2 linked regions of the Homo sapiens genome follow. The protein of the gene in region 1 purifies or fractionates together with the protein of each later gene. This does not show direct contact. Each region holds a gene or a part of one and is shown on either strand. Other genes may lie near its edges.

Region 1 (5,521 bases):
AGCAAGATGGCTGGAGAGCTGCCCGACTTGTTCACGTGGGAGCAGGGTGTGACTCTGGCCTCATCGGGACAAATGATCTGAGCAAAACCCAGTCTTGCCGCTTGATAAAGCACATAAGTAAAGGTGATGGATGTCTGGCCGGGCGTGGTGGTTCACGCCTGTAATCCCAGCACTTTGGGAGGCTGAGGTGGGTGGATTACCTGAGGTCTGGAGTTTGAGACCAGCCTGGCCAAAATGTTGAAAATGAAACCCCATCTCTACCAAAAATACAAAAATTAGCCAGGTGTGGTGGTAGGTGCCTACAATCCCAGATACTCAGGAGGCTGAGGCAGGAGAATCACTTGAACCAGGGAGGTGGAGGCTGCAGTGAGCCAAGATCATGCCACTGCACTCCAGCCTGGTGGAAAGAGTGAGACTCCATCTCAAAAAAAAAAAAAAAAGGTAACTGATATCCAATAACCAGGTACTGGTTTGGGGCTTTACAGTTTGTTAAATACTTTAACACACAGTCTCTCATTTCTTCCCCACAATCAACCTCATCTTATTGATAAGAAAACTGCATCTCAAATAGGTGGAAGAGGCCATATAGATAAGCAGGTGACCCCTACCAATGTCAATATCCTTTGACGCAATACTTTCGCTTTCAGAATTTTTCCCAAGGAAATAATCAGAGATGAACCCCAAAATTTATATTTTAGAATGTTCACCATAGTATTCATTTTAGGAATAAAACTGGAAACAACATCCAACTCTAGGGGATTAGCTAAATAAATATTAAGTCAGTGCAGAGCACATTTATGCGGCCATTCCAAATCAATCTACATTTTGTTTCCCCTGGAAACATTAGGCAGTATTTAAACCTTCAACCTTTGATTCTCTTTTTCCCAGAAGACACTTTCTGATGGCTGTACCAATAACTTGGTAAAAACAAAACGGGCCACTTGTCCTCATGTCTAATTCACACTAACTTCCATTCTTCCTAGCCCCCTTCCTTCCAACCTGGGCAGGCAGGGCTAAGCACTGGGCTCTGAACTCAGTCCAAAGGGCTCTTTTTTGGAGATTTCAGGCCTCTGCATTTGGCAAAGTGCCTCCTAGTCTTGATCATGTTTTTTTTTTTTTTAATATCTGGCATGTATTTCCATATAGCAGCGTACAGCACAGAAACTCTCAAATACCCTTTCATTCAGCAAACACACACACTAGTGCCTGTTCTGTGCCAGGCACACAGGAGGCCTTGGGAAGACAAAGATGAATGAGATACAGCCTCTGTTTTCGTTGGTGACACAACTGAAGTATAGCTGTCATGGAGGAGGAGTTACAGCCAACACAGAAAAATTATTTCATTTTATGCTTCTCCATAAGACCTCTTCTAATGTGCTTGAATCTACTGTCCAACAGAGAAGAGGACCTGGACACTTCCCTCCACCACCACCCCCCGCCCTTCTCCTGAAGACCTGAAATTGAATCTCAGTTCTGCCACTTACTGGCTGTGGGATCTTGAGTTCCTACTTGAGTTTTCAGCTTTCTCATCTGTAAAATGGGAATCCAAACTGTACTTACGTCACAAGGCTGTTGGGAGAATTCAATGACATAATGCACGAAAATATTTTCTCAACATATGAAGCCCTGCATCTCCTTAGTCATTCATTACATTTGTCTGCTCACAGTTCTCTGGCTTGGCAAGTGTCATCAAGCAAATGAGACGTCAAGCCATCCTACTGTGTTTGTTAGTTCCATCTGCTGCTGTCCCCTCCTGTAAAACGTGGACATTTTAAAAGACAGCGGGGAGGGCCTCCTGGAGACAATGTATGTGAGCCTCCCTCCTAGAATGGCAGTGAGAGAAAGTTCTCCTAGACAGGTATGATATCACTGCATTTTAAAGATCTTACCGAGCCAGTGGTCCCCTGCCCCGTGGGAGGAGAGTGTGGCTTCACTCTTGGCCCCAAGGTCACTAAAACCTAGACTGTGCTATCACCCCCCTGACCCGTGTGTCTCACCTTGGGCAGGTCTGTGGCCCCACGGATCCGTTGCGCCACCTTCTCTCCATCGGGGTGGATCTTGGCCACGTGTTTCCACATCCTTTCCCAGGTGGCCTCATCCACAGGTAGCCCACCCCGGTTGACAAAGAAGGGGACGCCTCCGTCTCGCAGGTCCTCTTCCCCTTCCTCTTCTGGCTCCTCATCTCTCTGGGCTGAGGTTCCTTCGCTGGTCTCCAAACGCCTGACCCCAGAGGGGGCGGTGGCCGCAGCGGACGTTGGAGTGGCACCGCTGCTGCCACCCCCAGCCACCTTCTTCCCCCCTGGCATCCCTAAATCTTCGAGGGGGGTGGTGGAGGCGGGAAAACAACTGGCTCACAAGAGGCCTCCCACACACCGGCTGCAGAGATAACACATGGCCAGAGTGCAAGGCGCCTTTAAGAAATCAGGGCGTGGCTCCTGTACAATAAAATACGACTTGATAAAAAAAATCAGTGCAATAAGGTGAATTAGGGTCCGAGGGGGTGGGTTGTCTGGGGTCAGCCTTGGAGGCCTTGTTCTGTTTGAAAAACGGAATAAAGAGAACACACCCCAACTTGGCAGCCGTCACAAAGCACCCCCATCTAACTGCGAGAACAATGACGGGCAGCAGTGAGGGCTGGCAGAGCGGAGAAAAGTCGGAGGGAAACTGAGGCCAGACAGCTCGGACCAGCGGCTGCAGAAAGGACAGAGTCAAGGCACGGGTGCCCACTGGGCGCCCTGGGTCTCAGTTTCGGAGGGAACAAAATCCCCTACACAACTCTCGCACGCTCACATCTGCGCGCGCCCCAAGGAAGACCGAGGCGACTCCCGGCCGCGCGAGCTCGGAACCAAGACCCCCGGGCGGGAGAGCGGCGCTGGGGGGCGATTTCTCCGACGCGACGAGACAAGTCCGGGAGCCAAGACTCGCAGCTGGCCGGGAGCGGGGAGGGGGCGCGCGCCGACGCGCACATTCCCCGCCTGCGGCCAACTCCCTGCACAAAGTGGGCTTTGTCTGGGTCCCCTGTCCCCTCGTCCCCAGAAACAGCGGCGGAGTCCCCAGAAAGGGAGCGGGCGCGGCGGGGAGGCGAAGGCTGCGAGCCCCGAGGCCCAGCGGGTCCCCACTCGGGCGCGTCTCAGCGGGAGGACGGCTGGCACCTGGCGCCGCGCTGCACCAGCCGAGCCATCGCAGGGCACGGGGCCCGCGGCTCAGCGGGACCGGCTCGGGCGGCGCGCAGGGGCCAGGCTGAGGTCACTGAGCGGCGGGCTGCGGCCGCGGGGTCGCTGCCTGGGACTGGCTGCAGCATGGGCGGTGGCGCGGCCCGGGCGGGCGGAGGATGCTCCGTGGCTGTTCGCTCGGGCTGCAGCTGCCCTGGCTGAGGGTGGAGGAAGGACCGCGGGGCGGGGACCGCAAGCCCGGAGGCTCGCGCAGCCTCGGCCGGCGGATGTAGCTGGAGGCGAGTGACGAAGCCGGGCGAGCGCGCGCTGCGCTGGTGCCTGGGGAGCAGCCCGCCAACGCGGAGCCCGCCAACGAGAAGCCCACCAGCCGATCGCTGCTCGGCGAAGCTGGGGCCGCCGCTGCTGCAGCCCCGCCGCCCCTGGGCCCCGCTGCCGCCGACCACGTCCCCTGCCAGCCAGCCGCCCACCAGGCTCGACTACGGCCCGCGCCGCGCATGCGCTCCGTCCCCCCCTTAAAGGGCCAGCGCCTTCGCGCCCAGTCCTCCGCCCCCCGCGGCGGTGCCTCTGTCCCAAGTTACCCCAAGGACGCCGGTGGGCATTCGCTCCCTCCTCACCCAGCTGTCAGGGCGCCGCGAAGCCGGTGCGAAGCTGCGGAGGACGTTTTCAACGTGCCAGAGGGAGCGCAAACTCCATGGAGATTCCTAGCGCAGAAGGAATTCCTGCGGTCGGGAATTTCTTGAAAAAGATTCTTCGCAGGGGCCCTGAGCCGGTAGGACCGAGAGCACTGGCCTGGAAGACTGGGATTCTAGACCGGATTCAGTGCCTGTGTTGCTTTGGGACGTTCAGCAGTTCCCTTCCCTCTGTAGGCCTCAGTTTCCCCATATCCCAGCCGAGGTGGTCACAGTGAGTGAGCGCAGAGTCCCTCCCAGCGCGCACAGTTCTTAGAGGAGGACATCTAGGGATTGAGACGGGGGGTCACTATCTCTGGAAACGAAAAGGGTTAAAAGTCACCCTGTTTTATTCGATTGCCTGCACTGGTGGGAATGGGGTGCGCAGAGCTCACCCCTAGACCATCTGCCTAGACCGGGCTTTGGACGCTCTGGACCCCGCGGACCAGGGTGGGACCGCGACGTGGGCGTGGGAGGCAATGCTTGGGGAGGGTCCGCTGGCCTAGAGGAAGGTGAAAGTACAACCAGCTGTGGTGCGTGGTTGGACACTGGACGCACCCTCCGCCTCCCTCATGCCATAGAGTTGTAAATGGTGGGAAAGGCACTATCTCTAGGCTGAAGCCAAGAACTTTAGGAAGAGACGGCCGAGTGTGTGCTTTAAGATGCTCCCCCTCTCCCCTGCCTGTAGTTAGCATGAATCACAGTCTTGTGGGAGAATGCAGATTCCTTGGCCTTAGCCGGCAGATTCAGATTCCTTAGTTGTGGGGTCGTTGCATTTCTTGACAAGCTGAGGTTACTACACAAGGGCTGGGTTAAAGGCCTTAGAGAGACCCCAGGGCCTCAGTGGTTTCACATCTGTTCTCTAAAGCTGTCCCTAGTATCTGAACTTTCTGGGTACCCTGTGCTCCCGTAGCAACCTCTTACTACCTCCAGGGTCAGAAACCAAGGGTTATCAGTGATGGGAAGGATTGCAAGACTCCAAGAAAGTTAGTTCAGCCTGGATCTTCTTAAACTCACTAAGGCAAGAAGACTCCAAGCGTAGAAAAATCACTAGGGATCAACAACTATCACCCTGTATTGTATAAACCAAGTCTCAGAGGGTAATTTCCCCAAACTCACACAGCTAGTAAGTGGCAGAGCTAGAATGTGAACAGAAGTCTTACTTCTTCAGACACTTGTTTTTCACTCTATACATTGCTTCTTGTGTTAGCCAAGTGGTGCTGGTTTTAAAATTGGCTTGCAAGCTCTTGACCATTCTTTTCAAAAGATGGGATCTAATTCCTTTCCCCCTGAATGTGGGATGTACTTGGTGACTGGTGTCTAATGAATAAAGTGTGATGAAAGTGAAGCTGTATGACTCTTAAGACCAGGCCATAAAAAGGAGACAGCTTCTTCTTGGTTCCTCAGAAGAAACCAGCTACCATGTTGTGAAGAAGCCCAAGCCACATGGTGAGGCCACATGAGGGTGTTCTCGCTGACAGCTGCTGCTGGGCTCTCAGCCAACAGCCAGAGTCAATCACCAGATCATGGCAAACCGAGACTTCAGGTCTTGCCAGCCCTCGGCCTTTAAGTCTTAGAGTTGAGGTCCCAGACATGGAGCAGAGAACAACCAGCCCTGCTGTGCCCTGTCTGACTTTCTGTCCCACAGAAATTGAGAGAGGATAAGTGACTATTCTCGTT
Region 2 (4,819 bases), on another chromosome or scaffold:
TTTTATTTGTTTAAACAGATGTGTGTGAGTGAGAGAGTCAGACAGACACCAGGATGAGAATTAACCTGTACTTGGTATAAGAGGAAGGTGGCACCTTTAATCTGATGATGCATAGCAAGAGAACTTGCCAGCAAAGAAAAAAGAAACTTAGAATATGTTCTGGCTGCGTAGATGTAATAATAATTACTGTCTTTTGCATGATCTGATGATCATTATCATTTGCAGCCCCCAGATTATAATGAATCACATTAAATTATAACAAAATAAGGCTGGGCGTGGTGGCTTACGCCTGTAATCCCAGCACTTTGGGAGACCAAGGTGGCAAGGTGGGTAGATCACTTGAGGTCAGGAGTTCGAGACCAGCCTGGCCAACGTGGCAAAATCCTGTCTCTACTAAGAAGTACAAACATTAGCCAGGCATGGTGGCGCATGCCTATAATCCCAGCTACTTGGGAACCTGAGGCAGGAGAATCGCTTGAACCCGGGAGGCGGAGGTTTCAGTGAGCCGAGATGGCACCACTGCACTCCACCCTGGGCAACAGAGCAAAACTCCATCCCAAAATAAATATATATATATATATATATATATATATATATATATATATATATATATATATATATAACAAAATAACCTTATTGTCCTTTTGTTCCTTATTCTATCCCTAAAATCAGTCTATGACTATCTTTATAGATGTTGCCCCGACATTGCAAACTTTGCAGACTGGCCGGGGCCAGGCCCAAGGGTGGTAACATTTGTATCCCATCCAGGCTGCAGATTTCCCCTGTCCTCCCCACCCAAGTCGTCCATTGTTGCCGAATGCATCGGCCATTGAATGTGTAGGGCTGTCTGGTTTCAGTGTGGTTAACTTTGGGAAATTATTGGACAGAACCACTGGGGAAGGTGACAGAAGGCTAGGTAGAACAGCAGAATTCATAAACATTCAGGGTGGACTACCGGGAAAGCTGATGGGCATTTTCTCTGCGTCTGCCATTCTTTTCCATTTCTCACCACAGGGAAGAGAAGCCGAGGGAGCTCTGGTGGAGGTTGCCAGGGAGAAGTACCAGACACGCCCTGAAATGGACAGCTTTTGTTAGGGTGGAAAGACAGGCTGCCAGGAAATGGGGCTCCAAGCAGGGCCTGGGGACTGGAAGCCCCTGGGAACTTGGAATGCCAGTCCAGTCTTTGTTTCCTAGAACAAGGGAAGGAAAAGATGAAGACTCACAACTCTTAAGGACTCCTAGGATGTTCTTTACCATATCTTGGGGCTTGAGATTTCAAAATTGTTTTCATTATTTTCATAACTTTTGCCCTAAACAAAGTAAGATCTTTTTAAAAAATATTGACTGATATACATAATTTAGCATTTTAATAAAGTGATTTATTTTTTGTAGAAAAACTTATTTATTCTGATCTCTTGGTAACAAGGCCAGAGGGAGCCCAGGTGACCAGATCACATGCTCTGGGCCAGCCATCACCTGTCCCAAGGGGCTGACATACCTAAGGGACAGGCCCAAGTCCTGAGGAGGCAGATGTTACCTCACCCCTGAGGGCAGAATAGAGCTTTCAAAGCAAAGGTTACTTCCAGGAAATGCATAAAAAGAATGGCAGCCTGTGTCCTTCCTCACATGAGTTCACTCACGTGGCATTTATTGAACATCCACTATGCCGGAGGCTCCACACAGGGCACTTTTTATCTTCCCAGCCACCCTGTGACGGATGTGGGATCATCCCTGTTTTGTGGGTCAGGAGGCAGAGGCTCAGAGAGAGCTGGCCCTGCCCAAGGACTCACTGTGAGTGTGGCAGAATTAGAATTCAGACCCAGGTCACTGTGAGAAACACAGTGGACTATCAGACCTCTTGCCTCAAAGGCAGCTTCTGGCCTAGGACTGGAGCGGAGGAGACAGAAGAACACTGAGGTCTTCTGGACACGAGGTCTGCTGTGCATGACTCGTGGGGAGTGTTTGTGCCAAGCTCTTTGCTAAAGAGGAACCTGCGGGGCCCTGAGCAGGGAGGAGGGAAGCAGGGTCTCCGTGTGGGAGCTGCTGGAGCTGGTCTTGCACAGCAGGCACCCTGTTCTTCCATTTGTGGTGCTTTGAAGGGAGTTGATAGAGCCTATGGGGGCAGCTAAATCCCTCCCAAGTCAGCCCTCAGCCCACTGCCATGGTTCTAGCTGAGAACTAATTACTAACCAGGGAAGAACCAATTAAACTAAATGGCTGGTTCCCACCTACTCTGGGGTAACCCTTTCCTGGCCACATCCTCCCTTCTGGCTTGGAGATACCAGGGCCCTGAAGACCCTGATTCTATTCCCGGTCTGTCACTGGCTGGCTGTATGTTGGATAAGCCCCAGCCCATCTCTGGCTTTCTCCGTGTATCCCCTCAAGGCTACTGGGCTGGGTGACCCCTTGGGCCAGTGGAGCTCTAACTCTGGTTCTGCAATTCAGTGCCAGCTCTGAGTATGAGGCCAAGCCAATAACACTCCCAGCCTGGAGACAAGCATGCTGCTGGTGAGAGGGGCTGCAGGAGTGAGATGGGGGATCAGGGGCTCTGCGACTGTTGCCCCCAGAACTGTCCTGGGTCCCACATGCAGGATCTTCTCCAGCCTACCACCTCCTCTCCTGGGAGGCATTCCTGGCCCCCTACACCTGAGTGCAACCCTCCCTGGGGGCACAATGTGGGGGAGGGGCATGCTGGCTCCCTTCTTCTGAAGATGTGCTTGGCTCTGGTTGCCAAGCAACAAGGATGGGGCTATCCTGCACTTCTGCTTCCAGGAGGTGTGTCTTCCACACAGAGAGGAACCATGATTAGGACGACAGGGCAGGTGACACCTCCCAGGTGCTCCTAGCCCAGGGGCACCCCTTTCCACAGCCTGGTGGGAGGGGTAAGCTGGGAGGGCAGGGAAAGGACAGAGCCAAGAGGGGTATATGGTGTCCCCAGCAGACCTAGGAGGGCTTAGAGACCCGGCCCCAGCCCCAGCTCCCACCCCCACCCCATCACCATATTGGTCCTCCTGCATCCTGGGCTTCCACCTCAGCCCACCCCTCTGCTGAATGGATGGTGTTGGTGTGCAATGGCACCACCTGTGCTCATTTTCCTCACCTGTGCAGGAAGTTGATCATTACCTTGTTGGGGTTCCAGGAAGATCAAGTACATCTATACATGGCATGTGATTAAGGCTCACATGATAAAAGCTCAGGTGATAGGTAATTTTGTTAATGAAATAGTAACAGCAATCTCCATCTCCTCCCTCATTGCAGAAGTAGGGTGCGAGATTTTGAGAATCATTGATCATTTCTGTATTGTGAACTGTGGGGTCTACATCCTCGTGATCTGGCAGGAAGAGCTGCTCATCCCATTTTATAAAGAAAGCGAAGGTCTGCCAGGTGAAGGCTTTTACACAGATGGAAGGACCCTTTGACTCCCTGGCCAGTGTTTTCCCCAGCTCCCCATCCCTGCTCAGAGACAGGCTGGCAAAAAGTGGGACAGACTCACCATGCCTGCTCCTCTGGGGCCACCAAACCTGCTCAGGGGAAGAGTACCTCATCTTCACAGCTCCGTTACTTCCTGTAAGGAGCTCAGCCAGGGTGGAGTATAAGGGCAGAGGCTTTGCAGCATTGGGGTTATATGCCTTCAGATGTGTGAGGTCGGTAGTACTTGGCCCACAATAAGCAGGCAACAAATCTCAGCCAGTATTAAGATTAGTATTACATACACAAGCAAGGCTATGGGCGTGATGTGCTTGGAGGAGTCAGGGAAGGCTTTCTGGAGGAGGTTTTGCATAGTGAGCAGGAACTCACCAGCAAAGAAGGGGAGGCACTGAGGGCAGAGGGCCTGACCATGCCCAGGCAGTGAAAGGCTTGGGGTTTCTGGGGAATCGGGTGTGGTTCAGGGTGGTGGGATTCTGGTGCGGGTGGAGAAATAGTGGGGGAGAAGGGGTTGAGCCTGGGGGAGTCAGTAGGGTCAGGCCCTGGAGGACCTCCCTGCAGGCAGTGGGGATCCACTGGGGAGTTTTGACCCAGAGGGACATGCTCATGGATTAGAAGGTGAAGGCAGAATGTGTTCTGATTGGAGGCAGGAGATCCAGGTGGCTGAACTAGGTCAGAACAGAAACGTTCCGAGGATGGAATTTATAGAGAGGGCTTGTAAACTTAAGCTTCCTTCCAGTTCTGAAGCTCAGCTCCACTGCAGATGTATATTTTCTTGATTCTTTCTCTTAGAATGAGGCCTCAGGAACAATGAAGGATTGTAGGGGAGGGACTATTGTCTCTCTCTGCAAGGCCACACTGTACGCAGATGGACCAAAGCTAGCCCCTTTAAGCTCCCCTGTCCATCCTATCTCCACAGTGCCCTGGGTTCCCTGACTGCTCTGGCCTTCCATGGGTGTTCTGCGGGACTGCTGGCAGCCCTTCCGGACTCCTCCCTCTCTGCTACCTGCTCAGGTTGGATGTGGCATATGACCAGAAACTGGCCATTGGGTGTGTGAGCTCCCCTATCCTCTGGTCATTGGATGTGTGAGTCCCCCATCCTCTGGTCATTGGGTGTGTAAGTCCTCTGTCCTCTGGTCACTGGGTATGTGAGTTCCCGTCCTCTGATCATTAGTGTGTGAGCAGCCCATCCTCTGGCCATTGGATGTGTGAGTCCCCCGTCCTCTGGTCATTGGGTGTGTGAGTCCCCCGTCCTCTGGTCATTAGGTGTGTGAGTCCCCTATACTCTGGTCATTGGGTATGTGAGCCCTCCCTCCTCTGGTCATTGGGTGTGTGAGTTCCCGTCCTCTAATCATTAGTGTGCGAGCAGCCCATCCTCTGGCTGTTGGATGTG

What was found. Proteins that work in one complex are often made in the same cells at the same time.
Region 2: the proteins of VASH1 (region 1) and RAB6B purify together in Homo sapiens (affinity purification with mass spectrometry; one large-scale study listed by BioGRID and IntAct). This does not show direct contact.

Annotation. Positions count from the first base shown.
Region 1 is NC_000014.9:76,759,607-76,765,127, reverse strand, and holds the start of VASH1 (tubulinyl-Tyr carboxypeptidase 1), read right to left. Parts: upstream 3,661-5,521; 5' UTR 2,307-3,660; coding exon 1,998-2,306; intron 1,570-1,997; exon of another isoform or gene 1,485-1,569; intron 1-1,484. UniProt on the Homo sapiens protein: Tyrosine carboxypeptidase that removes the C-terminal tyrosine residue of alpha-tubulin, thereby regulating microtubule dynamics and function.
Region 2 is NC_000003.12:133,885,192-133,890,010, reverse strand, and holds part of RAB6B (ras-related protein Rab-6B), read left to right. Parts: intron 1-4,345; exon of another isoform or gene 4,346-4,445; coding exon of another isoform or gene 4,446-4,476; intron 4,477-4,819. UniProt on the Homo sapiens protein: The small GTPases Rab are key regulators of intracellular membrane trafficking, from the formation of transport vesicles to their fusion with membranes. Rabs cycle between active GTP-bound and inactive GDP-bound states.